2 separate regions of the Homo sapiens genome follow, and region 1 is linked to region 2. A link means that fine-mapping ties the variant in region 2 to the expression of a gene that starts in the linked region. Tissue or cell type: nasal epithelium. Region 2 holds a variant in brackets; the other region holds the start of a gene. All regions are shown on one strand. Distances are from middle to middle.

The links. PIP is the estimated chance that this variant, and not a neighbour inherited with it, causes the effect.
Region 1: it holds the start of DNAH2, and the variant in region 2 is fine-mapped to the expression of DNAH2 in nasal epithelium (TOPMed, PIP above 0.99). The same link has a PIP of 0.9 or more in testis.

Annotation. Positions count from the first base shown.
Region 1 is chr17:7,713,366-7,721,365 of GRCh38, reverse strand. DNAH2 (dynein axonemal heavy chain 2) reads right to left here and starts at 3,622. Exons shown (of 86, transcript NM_020877.5): 1 at 2,567-3,622; 2 at 1,466-1,645. The coding sequence starts at 1,631.
Region 2 is chr17:7,814,658-7,822,657 of GRCh38, reverse strand. It overlaps DNAH2 (dynein axonemal heavy chain 2), which reads right to left. Exons shown (of 86, transcript NM_020877.5): 64 at 5,923-6,087; 65 at 5,243-5,368; 66 at 4,949-5,097; 67 at 4,802-4,868; 68 at 4,562-4,712; 69 at 4,198-4,346; 70 at 3,882-4,015; 71 at 3,595-3,739; 72 at 3,250-3,449; 73 at 1,289-1,415. Among named protein-coding and RNA genes, the nearest start is that of KDM6B, 16 kb to the left of the region's middle. The variant C/T (reference allele first, on the strand shown) is at 4,434.

The DNA of each region.
Region 1 (8,000 bases), 100 kb after region 2:
CCCATCTCTACTAAAAATACAAAAATTAGCCGGGTGTGGTGGCACACGCCTGTAATCCCAGCTACTCAGGAGGCTGAGGCAGGAGAATCGCTTGAACCCAGGAGGTGGAGGTTGCAGTGAACTGAGATCGCACCACTGCACTCTAGCCTTGGCAACTGAGAGAGACTCTGTCTCAAAAAAATAAAAAAAATAAGCTGGGCATGGTGGTGTATGCCTGTAATCCCAGCTACTTGGGAGGCTGAGGCACAAGAATCACTTGAGCCCGGGAGGCAGAGGTTGCAGTGAGCTGAGATTATGCCAATGCACTCCAGGCTGGGAGACAGAGTGAGAATTTGTCTCAAAAAAAAAAAAAAAAAAAAAAGAAAGAAAGAAAAGAAAGCTTGGAGCTGGGAGAGGCAGAAATCCTTGCTGTTCGAAGGCCAACACATTCATTTTAAAGCTCCTTCCCTTACCTCCCCAGAGGATTCTCCATACTGAACCTCACTGTCTTCCCTCCCATCTTCCCCTACTCCTCCTAGCAGCGAGCAATCCCATTTTAACTGCTTTCACCTGAGCACTTCAGAACTCAGAAGGATACATTCTGCACATTTCTAAGATCCTGGAACCTAATGCAAGTTCTTATGGCCCAGGGACTTTTCTCCCATGCCCACGCTTAACCTCTCAACCTTTAATTTTAGAAGGGGATTCTATTTCACAAGCTACTATCAGTGTAAAGGAGCTCCAGGTAAAGAAGGAGGTCTACACTTAGCTCATAGTCCTGTCTACACTGACCAGTGCTCTCAGGGAGATCCCAGCAATAGCAACAACTACCAAAAACCTTCCAACCTTACTGGCTCCGGCTCACCCACAGGAAAGGAATCCCTCAGGTCAAAGCCACAAGAGGCTGCCTCGTTAAACTCTTTCCTCCCTAGATCTAGACTTCTTTCCTGTCATCCTGAACCTGAACCTCCGCAGTCTACCAAGTCCCTGCCAAAATGAGGGCGGAGATAGAACAGCCCTCAACAGATGGTAGAAAGCATCAGCCGGGCTTTGGATTCAAAGGGTGGCAAAACAGGCTGAGTCTCCATGGTGATGGGCTTAATGGGAGAAAAACATTATTTGTTTTGCCACCCAGGGTGAAAATGGGAAAAAGGAAGAGATCAAACCCTCTTCAGTGGGGTAGGAGCAACCAGGAACACTTGAAATAAGGAGGAAGAGGCTAGAGAAAGGACTGGTTGGTGAACTCCTGGTATATTGTGGGAAATTTTAAGACAGAAAGAACAAGGATGAGGCTGGCCAGGAGGAAGACATACAAAAAAAGGACTCAGTGGCAGGGCTGCTGAACCTCCATGGCTGGGGGCGTCACTTAGCCCGTTTCCTGCCCAGAAGCAACAGCGCCTGCTCCCCAGCCCTAAAATGCCTCCAAGCCCCTCTGACTTTCCCCACCCTCCATTGCTAAGCATCCTCTGCCCCAGCAAGTACCCACCAGGCTCCTCCTTGGGGAGCTCAGCCTGCAGCTCTGGCTCACTGACAGCCGGGGCATTCCCCTGCTCCTGTGTGGCCACAGCAGCCCGAGTGGCCCGCCCTGACCAGCTTGCCTGGGAGCTTCCTCGGCCACTCAATCGCTGCTTCTTCTCAGCTTTGCTGGACATCGTGCAGGCAAAACCTACAGGTATACAGGAGTGGAGAGTCTACAAGCAGATACCACCCCTGAACCAGCCCCCTGATACAAGCAGTCCCTTTTGAATTCATAAATTGACTGAAACTCAATATGATCATCTTTTCTGGTGGTACCCACACCCTGCTCCATTAACCACAAGGGCTCTGTACTCCACAGGGGCCTGGGAGGCCTTGCTGTTTTTCCCTAGGATATCCTACTGTCTTCGGGGCACTGGGCTAAAAATCAAAGTCAGTCCCTCAAGGCACTAGGAACAAATGGGAGTTAAAGATGATGGCCAGGCTGGGTGCGGTGGCTCATGCTTGTAATCCCAGCATTTTGGGAGGCCGAGCCGGGTGGATCACCTGAGGTCAGGAGTTCGAGACCAGCCTGGCCAACATGGCAAAACCCCGTCTCTACTAAAAATACAAAAAATTAGCCAGGAGTGGTGGTGCGTGCCTGTAATTCCAGCTACTCGGGAGGCTGAGGCAGGAGAATCTCTTGAACCCGAGAGGTAGAGGCTGCAGTGAGCCAAGATCATGCTACTATACTCCAGCCTGGCTGACAGAGTGAGACTCTATCTCAAAAAAAAAAAAAAAAAAGATGGCCAGACACCCCACTAATGAGGATTTAGAACCTCTATCTCTGCCCCGGGGTATGAGAACATAAGATAATCAGGAAAAGATCTATCAAGCTGAAGTGTGGTTGCCCAAACCCTCATCCACTCTACCCTCCAGGACCATGAGTGAGTGAGAGAGGATCAAGGAAGGGGTGCACATCCCCCATCCTTTGTCACTGTTCAATCATTCAAGCAAACCAAGATGATTTTCCTATGTACCTCTTTTCCTCCCAAGTTAAATGGAAATATGCTCCTCCCAATCCCACTAAAATCTGCAACATCTGTAAACAGAGAAAAACAGTATTTGCCACCTGGGTCTATCGCTTTGAAGTCCTGAGGGGCAGGAACACTGTTTTGTGTGTACTGAGGTCTCTTAGCAGAGTTGGCTGAGGAACTCTGTGCTAATGGTTAAGATCAGTCAGGATCATTTATTTGACTCAAAATGCCCTGAGAACAGATTGGAAGAAAGAAGGACAAAAGTCATCCAATCATAAATTTCAAATTGTGTCATGAGGAAAAAGCAATTGGGGCACGAGGAAGGTCACAGTGGTGCCTCTCTCAGAAAGGTAGGATGGCAGGAAGCGGGGATCTCGGACAGGTGCTCAGAATCCCAGGCGCAAAGTCTGAGGCGCTGGGCACTCTCTTTTCATTAGGCTGCAGCCTAACGGCACCTGTGGCTCTCCTTCCTCATCCCCACAGGCTGCCACAGGCATTGATCTCAGGTTATGAATTTCAAACTTGAAGGATTTGTACTTTGCTCCAAGGAAAAACGTTCTGTTAGGCCAGCAAATCAATAAAACCAACTACAGCAAGGAGGCTTCCTCCATCAGTCTCCAGAGAAGCATCAAGCTGCGCTTTCCTGCCTCAAACTAGAGCCTGAGGCGCATGCACCGTGGGGTTCACCACGCGATCCCACACCGCAGGCCCCAGGAGGAACTGCTCTGCTAAGTCGGGGCTCACTCTAGTACTAGGAAATACCGCAGGGGCCAGCAGTATTTATCCTGCAGTATAAATCCAGCAGTATTTATCCAGCAGTATTTATACCAGCAGCTGGTATCCTTAAACTGGTTACCAGCAGGCAAATTTCCCCTCAGAATGGCTCTTCCCCCCCAGCTGTCACAACTGCCCCTTCTCCTCCCCCTCCCCCACACAAATATTCCTTGCTCCCTCTCCCTCCACAACTGCCTCTTCTCCCCAACAACTGTCCCTTCCTACCCCGACACTACTGCCCCTTCTCCCCAGCACTCCTTCCCTCCTTCCCTCTGCCCCCGACACACACCTTGCCACGCTGACCCTCCCCTCCCTAGACCGACCGATGGGCCACTCTAAGAAGTTGCCCCTCGCAGCCCTCTCGGGCCGGCGTCTGCACGCGTCCCCATGGCAACCCCGGGCAGGGAGGGGCGAGTGGCCGGTGTGCGGCCCCTCGGAGCCCGCCTCCTCCGCGCAGGCGCCCTGGATCCCTGCTTCGCGGCCCCACCCCGCCCAGGTCTACCCCTCAGGGACCCAGGGCTTGAAGGCTCCGGGACTAAAGGAAAGTAGCCACATCTGGCGAGCCGAAGGGTGCGGGGGGCCTGGTGTCAGGACCCAGCTGGAAGGGCTGGGGCGAGAGACAGTGAGCCACCGCCCCGCAGGACATTGAAAAGGCAGGGAGAACCCAATCGCCCGACCCCGCGCCCAGGTCTGTGCGCCCCAGCCGGAACGGGTCCAGCAGATGGCGCCGGGCGCCAGGCCGGCGAGGGATATTCGCGATGTAGAAGGCGTTCCAGGATTTCCAGGCAGCCGTGGGTGCAGCTGGATCCGGGGGAAAAACCGGGCCTGGAGCACCCTTGCCCTCCTGCTCCTTCCCCCTTCTTAGTTCGGATTGGGGTCTAGGATTGCGGGGGGGCGGCGCGGGGCGGGGAAAGGGAGGGAAGACGGGAACTGGAGTTTTGGGAATCTGAGGATTGGCTTTCGAAGGCATCGCTGGTTTTTGGGGGGGATGAGAGGCGGGGACTCCCTGGGGAAGGTGACCGGGCCTGGGAGGGGCTTCGCTCTCCATAGGAACAAAGGCTGCGTCGTGAGAGAGGAGGCGAGAGGGGAGGGCTATGAGGGCCGGGGTACATCTCCGAGGGTGCCAGGGGGCGCTGCGGGCCGGGGCTGCTAGAAGGCGCCTGGAAGACCGCTGTACCTGGTGCCGGGAGGAGCTTTGGGGAGACCTGGGAAATACAGGGAGGAAGCCGAGTGGGGGGATGGGAAGGCGCCCTCCCTGTTTCCATCAATAGTGCCTAATTAAGACAAAGCCAGCAGCGAGCCCACTGATTACATTTCCATGAGGAGCGAAATTTATGACATTTTCTTTGCTGGATGAGGAGAAGAGAAGCTGGCACCTCAGTTCCCCCATTTTCTGTTTGGCGTTCACACCTAACAGATCTCATTATGCCAGCCTGGCACTACCAGGAGTGGCAGTCCCTGGTACTCCTGAAGAGCAAGTGGATTAACCACACCCTATCCCAGCGCTGACCTCACCCTCCCACCTACCGTATCTTTATTCCCAGAAGTGTCAACCCTTTCCCTCCCCCCGACCCCCAATAATTCCTCCTGCCCAGCCAGACTCCTGTTGCTGACAGCAGGAATGGAAGGAGAGGAGTACCGCCCACCCCAAAACCAGCTGCACAGCTAGCACAGCTAAGATGGAACGTGGAGGTGTTCCTCTAGCCAGATAGGCCATGGGTGGCAGACAGAGGTGATGTGGTTGGCCAGAACCCCTAGGGAAAAGTCCCAAAGGAGTGAAAATTTGCTGGAGGCGTGGGGTGGGGAGCCTCAGGGGCAAGGTTCATGGGTCCCTCGGGGAAAGGAACTTTGCACAGACCCCATTTCTTTTCTTAAACCCCCCTCCCCAACTGTGGCTGTGCCTACGGATCCCAGCCCCCCACATTATGCTAAATAGGTAATCAAACATCTCGCTTTGCTAATTACTGCTCAATCCGATTAAACGCTGCTGAAGCTCATCAACAGAGGTGGAGGTAGGGGGAAGGGACGAAGGCGGGGCAACCACAGCTAGCTATGATGGGGGTCTTTTCCCCAGGGGCTCTTCGGGGCTAGAGAAACAGCCAGGGTTGCAAGACCGTGTACATCCCAAAGGAAAGGGCAGAAGAGTTGTGACCTCGAGCCTCAGCCTTGCTGCACCTCCCAGCCACGGCCCTTTTCCTCCTCCCAGAACCTTCATTACCCTCCGAACCCAGGCATCCGGCCATTCCCACAGCTCCCCACACACATCCCTGTCCCAGATTTAATAAGTTCTGTTCCCTCATTGTCAATATTTGATTTCTCAGAGCCATCTCCACGGAGAGGGGGGTGGGGGATCTTTCCTTGCCTCCCCCCTACTTTGGCCCTCTTTTGCCCACCCCCAGTCTCTTTGTGCCCCCAACCTTCTCTGAACTTGCTGACTTAATGAAATGATATTAAAGTCTTAAGCAACTCCAAAAGAATGGTTGTTATGGTGAAGGGAGTGGGCAGGACGCCTGGGTCCCGGAGGGGAGCAAAGGCTGAGGAGGGGGAAAGGGAGCCAGAGGCTAAGGTCTAGAGACCCCAGTCCCTAGTGGGGAACAGCAGATTTGGGGTGAGCTGGGGGCCAGACCTCTGGATCTTGGCTGGAAGCAGGGGATGAGGACTGGGGGCTAGGAGAAGGTGGAAAGAGAGGTCCATTCCAGGGGTCAGGGTCTCGGCCTGCTGTCCGGATCATTCATCAGAGACAGAGGCCAGGGGAGACAGGGCCTCTATGCCAGCAGCCTCCCTGCCGGCTGTGCCCTGGGCTGGTCCCGTGAGAACCAGAGTAGATTACTCTACAGCCTGACTCATCCTTCTCCCCCAGCAGCCCCCCACAGGTGATTTGTAGCTGATGCCCCCACGATGGTAGGGGCCAGGATAGTCATTCCATGACATGAAGAACTGAGAGCTTCCAGGACAGAAGAGAACAGAGGCCAAGGGAAAGGAAGCCAAGCACCCCCCTTCACCTCCCCCCACCCATCCCCATCTCCCCTGGGGACCCTGGCCCAGCCCCAGTCCCCTTGGGGTGGTGGGAATGCAAGGACATTTGGCTGGGGCTGATTGATGAGGGAGGAGGCAGCCACCGGGCACTGAGGCTGCTGTTTGCTGAGCACACAGATTCCTCCCAACTCACCAGCTGCTACCCCCTGAAGCAGCTCAGTCTCCCCCCGACATCACCCCGCCAGCCACTGGGGTTGCGGTGCCTGAGTTTCTGATGGCAACTGGAGGAAGAGGGAGAACCAGAAAACTGAACACTTCGATTCCCTGTGGGAATTGGGGTACCTGGGGCCTGGTCCCCTCAGAACTCCCTTCAGAACTCCACTTTCCCTGCTACCTTTCAAGTAGCTCTCTGGCTGCCCAGTTGTCATTCCCATTCATTCTGTGTCCCTTTTCCTTCCCCCACCCAACTCTGAGCCTATGCCAGACAGCCTCCTGCCTCCAAACCACCGTGTGACATTTCTCCCAGGTCTCAAAACTCTCCCAAGCCCCATGTCCACGGTGGCCCATATAGCCCCTTAGGAAGGGCCATTTTTCATTCTAATTAAAATTCCAGATATGATGTCAACCATTCCGCATCAGAAATTCCCACTGCAAGGCCAGGCACAGTGGCTCACATCTGTAATTCCAGCACTTTGGGAAGCTGAGGTGGGTGGATCACCTGAGGTCGGGAGTTCAAGACCAGCCTGGCCAATGTGGTGAAACCCCATCTCTACTAAAAATACAAAAAATTAGCCGGGCGTGGTGGCACATGCCTGTAGTCCCAGCTACTCGGGAGGCTGAGGCACGAGAATTGCACCACTGCACTCCAGCCTGGGCCACAGAGCGAGACTGTCTCAAAAAAAAAAAAAAAGAAAAGAAAAAGAAAAGAAATTCCCACTGCCACTCCTTGCCCCATTCCCCTTTCCCTAAAAACCCCCAACACACACACACACACACACACACACACACGCACACACACACGCACCTCGGGCTGAATAGTATCCCTCAGCTGCCGTTATTTGGAAGGAGGGCAAAGCCTGAGCTTCACTCTACAGCTCAGCCCCAAGACAGCCTCAATCCTATGCGGTTTGGGGATGGCAGGGCGACAGCTCTAGCTTCTGTGGTCCCAGCCCTCTCGGTTCCTTTACTTCCGCTCTGCCTTCCTGCTCTGGACTCTGCCAGCAGCTGTGCCACAGCCCCCAAAAAAGCTCAGAGCATCATCCTTGCCCTCCCAGAGCTTAAAATTTAGACGAGGAAAACACAAGTCACAGACACACAAGAAACAAAAGGCAAGGGGATGGGAGACTGAGTGAGATCAACTTCCTTAATGTGGATCCAAGACCCTAAGTGACTTACTCCCCTCCAGGCCGAGGCTAGGGAAGAACAGGACACATCCGAAACATGCATGTGGTGGTGATGTCCTTCTTACTGTTCCCAAACACACCACAATCTCACCTCTGTGCCCGTGCACTTGCTGTTCCTCTGTCTAGCATGCCCGTCCCCAGTGTGCATGGCTTACTCCTGTCTCATGACTTAAGGTCCTGATCAAGGGCATCTCTTTCAAAGGGACCTTCCTGACCTCCTCATCTAAAGCAGCTCCAGGCCGGGTGCGGTGGCTCATGCCTGTCATCCCAGCACTTTGGGAGGCCAAGGTGGGCTGAGCACCTAAGGTCAGGAGTTCGAGACCAGCCTGGCCAACATGTTGAAACCCCGACCCTACTAAAAATACAAAACTTAGCT
Region 2 (8,000 bases):
ATGGGCAGATTATGAACCAAAAACATAACAAATAAGTAAATTATCTAGTATAGCAAAGACGGCAGTGCCAAGGAAAAATAGGATACTCTGAGGAGGGTAAGGGAGACTGAGAGTGTTGAGGGGTAGTTTGAAGTATTAAATAAGAAGATCAAGGTCGCATTGAGGTGAGGTCTGAAGGAGGTGAGAGATGGCCAGGTGCACACGCCGGGGAGTAGGCTTCCAGCAGAAGGCATGGCCACGCAAAGGCCCTGAGGCGAGACGTGCCAGGGGGTTTGGGGAGGGCAATGAGGCCTGCGTGGCTGGAGTGGAGTGGGGGCTGTGTGGTGGGAGGTGGCGCCAGCCATGGGGAGCCCGTCACAATGGCATCCACTTTAAAAGGACCTCTCAGGCCGGGCACAGTGGCTCACACCTATAATCCCAGCACTTTGGGAGGCTGAGGTGGGAGGATCACTTGAGCCCAGGAGTTCGAGACCAGCCTGGGCAACATGGTGGGACCCCGCCTCTACAAAAAATACAAAAATTAGCCGGGCGTGGTGGCGCAGGCCTGTAGTCCCAGCTACTCCAGAGGCTAAGATGCGAGGATGGCTTGAGCCTGGGAGGTCGAGGCTGCAGTAAGCCAAGATCACTGCCACTGCGGTCCAGCCACAGTGAGTGACAGAGTGGGACCTCTCTGGTTGCTGTGTTGAGAGTTTGGGGTGGGAGGCAGGAAGTGAAGGTGGGAAAAGTCAAGAAAATGTCTAGGAGGGCGGGAGAGTGCAGCATGGTTGTCTGGAAGCCTTAGGGGCCTCCTTGAGGTTCACGATCATGGACTTAAAGCGCGTCCAGTCGGTGTGGATGTGTTCTTCTCCGGCCATGCTCAGTGCACTGGCCGCGCAGGGACAGAGGGGAAGAGGAGCTGGATCTAGCCAGAGCGGTAGATGCGACAGAGAGAGGAGAAAAGCTGGGGTTGAGGAGCCTGTGAGGGAGAGATTGTGAGGGCGACCATGGAACTCAGGCTGGGGAAGGAGTGCCTTGAAAGGCAGTAAAAAAGCGGCAAGATCAGGCCAGTTTGTGGGTCACAGGTGAGACATGCCACAAAGCCCAGCCTGCGCTGAGTGCAAGGGGGTGCATGGCAAGTCACCTCCGCAGCCCCAGGGAGCTCACCATGCACCTGATGCTGGCCTGGATTTTCTCAGCTCACTCACTGATGCTGTGGGCCTGACCCTCTGGGTCTGGAGTCCTTGTCACACTTGCCCTCATCCCCAACCTTGACCATCCCATCCTGGGATGTGCTCTCTGCCCAACTCACCACACCCCCACGTAGAAAGAAGTTGTATTCATCCATGTTGAGCTTGCCAGAAGTCTCCAAGATTTTGGCACACATATGAAAACTGAATAGTAGTTTGTGGCGTTCGAAAAGGGTACGGCAGGTGTACCTGGGAGAAAGGGACAGGGAAGAGGGAGGGGCAGCATGGAATGGGGGCTGATGCTCCATGCGAATGCTATGATGCTACTATCACACAGCTTCACACAGAGGACCTCACCAGCCTCTAATCCTAACCTCCTGGAAACAGCTGAGGACTCAGGGGCCTAGACACAAGAATTTCCCAGAGTCCACTTATTATTATTATTACTTTTTGAGACAGAGTTTCGCTCTTGTCACCTAGGCTGGAGTACCATGGTACGATCTCGACACACTGCAACCTCCACCTCCCAGGTTCAAGCGATTCTCCTGCGTCAGGCTCCCAAGCAGCTGGGATTACAGGAGCCCATCACCACGCCTGGCTAATTTTTGTATTTTTAGTAGAGATGGGGTTTCACCATGTTGGCAGTCTGGTCTTGAACTCCTGACTTCAGGTGATCCACCCGTCTCAGCTTTCCAAAGTGCTGGGATTACAGGTGTGAGCCAACGTGCCCAGCCATTCACTCATAATTAGTCATTCAGTTCCATTAAAAAACAAAACATTCATTATTCCCCTACTGTCTTGCCAGGCACTCTGCTAGGTCCTGAAGACACAAAGATGAATAAGCCACAGTCTCGGAGAGGACAGAGAGGCCATCAGTTATGATGTCCCTGCCTGCTGGACTTGGAAAGTTTCCGAGGAGCTGCCCCAAGCTGCAGTAGAGTTTTCAGGTGACATGGGAGAGGCAGAGAGATCACAGCATGAGCAAAAGCATGAGAAGGGCACAGCATGCAGGGCAGTCAGGGACGCTCAGGCCCCCAGTGCAAGGTGGGAAAGGTGAGGCTGAGGCAGGAGAAGGCCAGGTCCTGAGGGCTTTCGTGGGCCACAGGGGCCAAGCAACCAACCACTGGCAGTCAGACCCGGGAAGCGGCATGGGCAGATTTGTTCAGGTGGGCAATACAGGAGGGTGGGTTGAGAGGGACAGTGGGTAGAGGCAGAAGGACCTCTAGGAGACCATTGTGCAACTCAGAAAAAAGGATCACCAGGGCCAGAACTAAAGTACAGCCAAGCAGTGGGAAGATGGGGAGGGAACAGTTGCAGAAATATTCATGAACAAAACCTGGTGACTGCTTTGAAAGGGAAGAGTCAAGGATAACTCCCAGTTTTTGCCAGGCGTGGTGGCTCATGCCTGTAATCCCAACACTGTGGGAGACCATGGCAGGAGGATCCCTTGAGCTCAGGAGTTTGAGACGAGCCAGGGCAACATAGGGAGACCCTTTCTGTACAAATAAAAATTATAAAAAATAAAGGATAACTCCCAATTTCTGGCTTGGGTGACTGGGTTGTGGGTGTTGGTGCCATCCAAGGATGAGGACCCTGAAGGAAGAGGGAAGAGAATGAGTTTGATCTGAAGTGAGTTGAGCTTGAAGGGTCTGTGGGATGTCAGGGTAGAGAAGTCCAGTTCCTTGCTGCTCAAATGTGATCCACAGACCAGGAGCAGTGGCACCCCTGGGAGCTTGTTGGAGTTGCAGAACCCAGGCCCCACCCCAGACCTGCAGAATCCCAACCGGTACTTTCACAAGATTGCCAGTGCACTTCCTGCCCGTTAACATCTGGGCAGTGCTGGTATCTCCAACAGTTGTGTAGACAAGTCCAGTGCTCAAGGGAGGGCTACAGACACAAGACAGGGAATCATCAGCCCACAGGTGATGGTTAAGCCATGAGAGTGAGGAGCTACCAGGAGGACATATGCCAAGGACAGCGGCAGGCTGAGAGCCGCGGTGCGGGAAAGCACGAAGGTGCAGTGGCCAGAAGAACCACAGCCACTCGGCCTCCGGGCTGGGGCATGTTGGGGGCACCCTCAGACCTGTAGACAGCGTAGGTGTGGTAGTCATTCAGGTAGTCAATGCGGTCCTCCAGCTTATTGCTGCGGTGGCTTTTGTCAATGCTGAGAATAAAGAGGCTGATGTAGGCATCCAGTGAGAACTGGTACATGGGGTCGATGCAGCCCATATCATTGAGCACGAAGAACAGGATTGATGCCCGCTGGGCGCATGGGCGGTAAGCCTGCCGGTGGGGATGGGTGGAGTCAGGGCCACTGAGGGACGTGGCAGGGAGCAGGGGCTCAGGGAAGGAGGGGTCTCGAGCCGTCATGATGGAGTTGCATCTTGGATGGCTGGTGGGAGGCAGGACTGGAGGGCCGGGAGCTTACCTCCCGCGCCAAGTCAGTGTTGATCTCTGTGGTCTCACTGGTCTCCAGCTGCTCAGTCACCTCTGTGGCTGTGATCTTGGAGGTATGCAGCGTGTTCACCAGCTGCACATCATCCAGCAGGGAGCCGGTGGCCTCATTCAGCAGCCTAGGGGGAGGCCCAGAGGCACATGGAGCAAGGGGTTAGCGGGACCAGGCTCCCTGGGATGCTGTTGTGCCTGGGGTAGACTGGGTGGAGGCTGGCTGGGAGTAGACCCGTGGGGCAGTGGGAGGGGAAGGCAGGGCCTCACCGCAGGATCTCATCCTCCAGCTCCTTGAGCTTCCTTTTACCAGCCGCGATGTTGATGACCAGTGAGTCCTTCTGCTCCTCCAGCTCAGGCCGCTCCTTCCGCACCACAATGCCCAGCAGCTGGGCCTCCAGGCCCTGGGGGCATCAGGACTCACAGTGAGGGGCTGTCACTCCTTCGACCTTCACCTTCCTCATCTCTTTCCACCTTGAAAGACCCCTCATCCTCAGCTGCCCAACACAAGCTTATCCCTTTTCTCAATCCTTCCAAACTCTTCCTGCTTCACCCTAGCTCAGTCTGGACCTCAGCCTGTACCCACCTGTTCTTTAACAGCAAAGTTGACGATGGTGGTCTTGGCTGAGGTCTCTGGGCTGTAGTGGGGGTTGGAGAGCTTGGTGGTGATGTAGAAACGGAAATTGGTATTATATTCCACCTCCTTATCGCCAATGCGCATCAACAGCCGACCACCTGCATCCACGGAAGGGTCAGGGGCAAGGACTCCATGTGATGGGTACCAGCTAACCCATCCCCCACCGGCATCCAGGGGCAGCGACT[C/T]AGCCTGTCCTAAGGCCCCAGGCCAGGGCTGTCTGAATGGAGGGACAGGTAAGAAGAGGACACAGTCAGAGAGCCAGCCCTTCCCTCCCTAGCATCCCACTTGGCTGGTCTTGGGGACTTGTCCTGACCGATTCGGGCTACAGATTTGTTGAGCATGGGGTTCAGTGTGGGGTCCAGATATTCCTGCACGTTCTGAAGTAGCACCGGGTATCCAAAGTGAATGGCGTGTTCTAGGATTCGCAGGTAATCGCTCATCTGCAGGTCGATGATCTTCAGGCCCTAGAGAGCAAGGGGGAAGGTGAAGGAACACTACGGGAGAGGTGGGGCCTCAGGAAGGGGGGGGCTAACCTGACCCCCCAGCCTCACACCTGGCCTCCTTCCATGTTCTTAATCCATTTCAGGGCCTGGGCCTGAGGGTCGATCATCAGTGCCCACCTGGAAGGGGAGTACAGGTCAGAGGTGAGGCCCTCTCTCCCATGCTCCCGTACCGCCCCCACGCCCAGCAGCACCCTCACCTGTTGCCTCGGGTGACGATGATGCCATTCTCAGTGGAGAAGGCGTCTGAGGGCAACCCTTGGATGTTCCAGTCCCGGACTTTGGTAGGATTGCACAGGAAGTTATCGATGGCGAAAGAAGGGGAGCAAGGAACCTGAAGCTCCCAGATCTGGGGAGAGAAAAGCCCCATGCTTTAACTTGAAGAGCTGAGCCCAGCAGCCCCCGCGCCTTCACGGTATCTCTTAATATTCCCAAAGGTCCTGCCCCCAGCCCTGGTCTCGGAGCCTACTTGTCATGCCTGAGTCCCATCTCACCTTCCCGATCCAGATTTGGTTGACAATCTCATCCCGGTAGTTGGTCAGGAAGGGTCCCATGTAGGACAGGAAGGCAGCTGCCAGGAGACAGTCCCCCACCAGGTAGCCCAGGTCCTCCTCCAGGCCCTGGCGGACAGGAGGGAGGGTAAGCCTGCCTGGGCCCCAGCACTCTGGGAGACACTTGGAATGCTTTTGAAGGCACCCTCTTCTGGACACTGTCAGGTTCAAAGAGGATCTTTCCCTCCCCTAAACCTGTGTGTCCTGACAACTCTAGCCTGGTTCTAATTACTTTTGAGTTCTCTATCTCTAATGGCAATGTTTACATTCTGGTGATAAGGCCTAACCTTTCTGTGAAGCCAGGAGCTCACTGAGGGGCAGAAGCAAGATGTGCTGTGTCTGTTTTCTGTCTGGTTGTTGGGCTACATCAAGAGTCCTTGTGTGTGCTTCCCAGCCCTGCCCAAACACTGAAGCAGATCCCTAATAATGCAAAAAGCCTTTCCTTCCATTGCTCTCACCAAAGGTGTGCAGGGGGAGGGGAAGAGCTCCCACGCCTCAGTTCTTAGAGTTCCCTATACCCAGGTGTCCCCGTTTTCCCTGACTGCTCCTCAAGCTAAAAGGGATGGGTCTCTCGGAAGTGGCGAGCAGAGTGAAAGGACACCAGGTAGTACAGCTGATCTCACCTGGACTGTCTCCTCCCATCTGGCCTTCTCGCCAGCCAACCCCGACACGAGCATCCCAGCTCGCTCCAGCTTCAGCTCCATCTCTTCAGACTTCTTGCGAAGCTCCTCCTTCTGTGCCAGCTTCTCATCATACTGTTTCTTTAGCATCTCCAGTTTCTCAGCTACCTGGGAGAGATTCGAGTATAGCGCATCAAACACAGGGCTCGCAGCCAGATTGTTCTTGTTCACATCATGACTCTGCCATTTTGTAGCTGCCATTTTGTAGCTTTGTTAAATTAATCTCTTTGAGCCTAGTTTCCTCATGTTGTAAAAGAATACCTACCCTATAGGGTTATCGTGAAGAGTAAATGAGATAAAATACGTGAGATGAGGTGAATTTTCTTCCCCTTCCTTCCACCACCCTTTCCTAGAGCCCAGAAACTACTTGGTAGTTTCAGGGTAGCTGGGTAGGGGACGGAGACCTCTTGAAGCATAATAAGCCACACAAGATGGTGGCAAGTGAAGGCCAGACAGCACATAAATGACTGCCACTCCATGCCAGAGGCCATACCTAAGGTGGAACCTTGAAAGAGGAAGAAAAAGAAAGAAATGAACCCAAGAGCTGTTAGAGGGAGAGTCCATTCGAGACAAAGAGCTGGCTGGGCGTGGTGGCTCATGCCTGTAATCCCAATACTTTGGCAAGCCAAGGCAGAAGGATCACTTGAGGCCAGGAGCTTGAGACCAGCCTGGCGACATGGTGAGACCCCGCCTCTATTCAAAAAGTAGAAAATAAGAATAAAAATAAAAAGACAAAGGACCAAGTGCAAGGTCCCACACTAGAGATGGAGGCCTGGGCAGAGCTGTGTATACTAGAGAAACCCCTCTCAAGTCATTGCCACCTGTGGACTCTGTGGAGGTTGGAATGAATATATATATATTCACTGAAATCTGAAGGAGAGAACTGATAGAGCCTTGTCCCAAGATCCTGTATATGTGTGTGTGATCCTGTATATGTGTGTGTGATCCCGTATACGTGTGTGTGATCCCGTATACATGTGTGTGATCCCATATATGTGTGTGTGATCCCGTATATGTGTGTGATCCCGTATACGTGTGTGTGATCCCGTATATGTGTGTGTGATCCTGTATGTGTATGTGATCCTGTATATGTGTGTGTGATCCTGTATATGTGTGTATGATCCTGTATATGTGTGTGATCCTGTATATGTGTGTGTGATCCTGTATATGTGTGTGTGATCCTGTATGTATATCTGACCACCCAACAGCAGTTGTGCCTGGTTACAGACTGTATCACCGTCCTTTTCATCATGAGGAATATGGGGTGGGGGATTACACATAGCATTTACACGATACATGTTCCCTTTCCCGCTGCCACCTCACTGGGAAAGGCAGCCCACATCGTGGAAATAGTTCCACTACTAGAAAGTAGAAGTAGCTCTGCCTTAACTGAGTAATTCTGGTAAGTTTCATCCTTTCGGAGCCTCGCCAAGGTGGCTGCAGGTAAGGGTGATGTGGGCTATGGCACGGTGCAAGGCACACAGCAAGCAAGCACTACCTGACCCAAGCACTTGGAAATGGGAGAGATCACTCTCCAGAAGATATTCTTTAAAACAACATGGAGGGCCAGGTGCGGTGGCTCACCCTGTAATCCCAGCACTTTGGGAAGCCAAGGCAGGCAGATCACCAGGTCAGGAGTTCCAGACCAGCATGGCCAATCTTTTTTCTTTTTCTTTTTTTTTGTCTCAAAAAGAAAGAAAGACATACATGCACGAGGTTAAAACCTAAATGATATAAAAGAGGTTACAGGAAAAGTAGCATCTAGACCACCTTTCCCACAGCCAGACTTCTTCCTCTGAGGCAAACTACTTTGTTTGTTTGTTTGTTTTGAGACGGAGTCTCGCTCTTGTCTCCCAGGCTGGAGTGCAATGGCACATCTCACCTCACCGCAACCTCTGCCTCCTGGGTTCAAGCGATTCTCCTGCCTCAGCCTCCCGAGTAGCTGGAATTACAGGCATGCACCACCACACCCGGCCAATTTTTGTGTTTTTAGTAGAGGCTGATCTCAAACTCCTGACCTC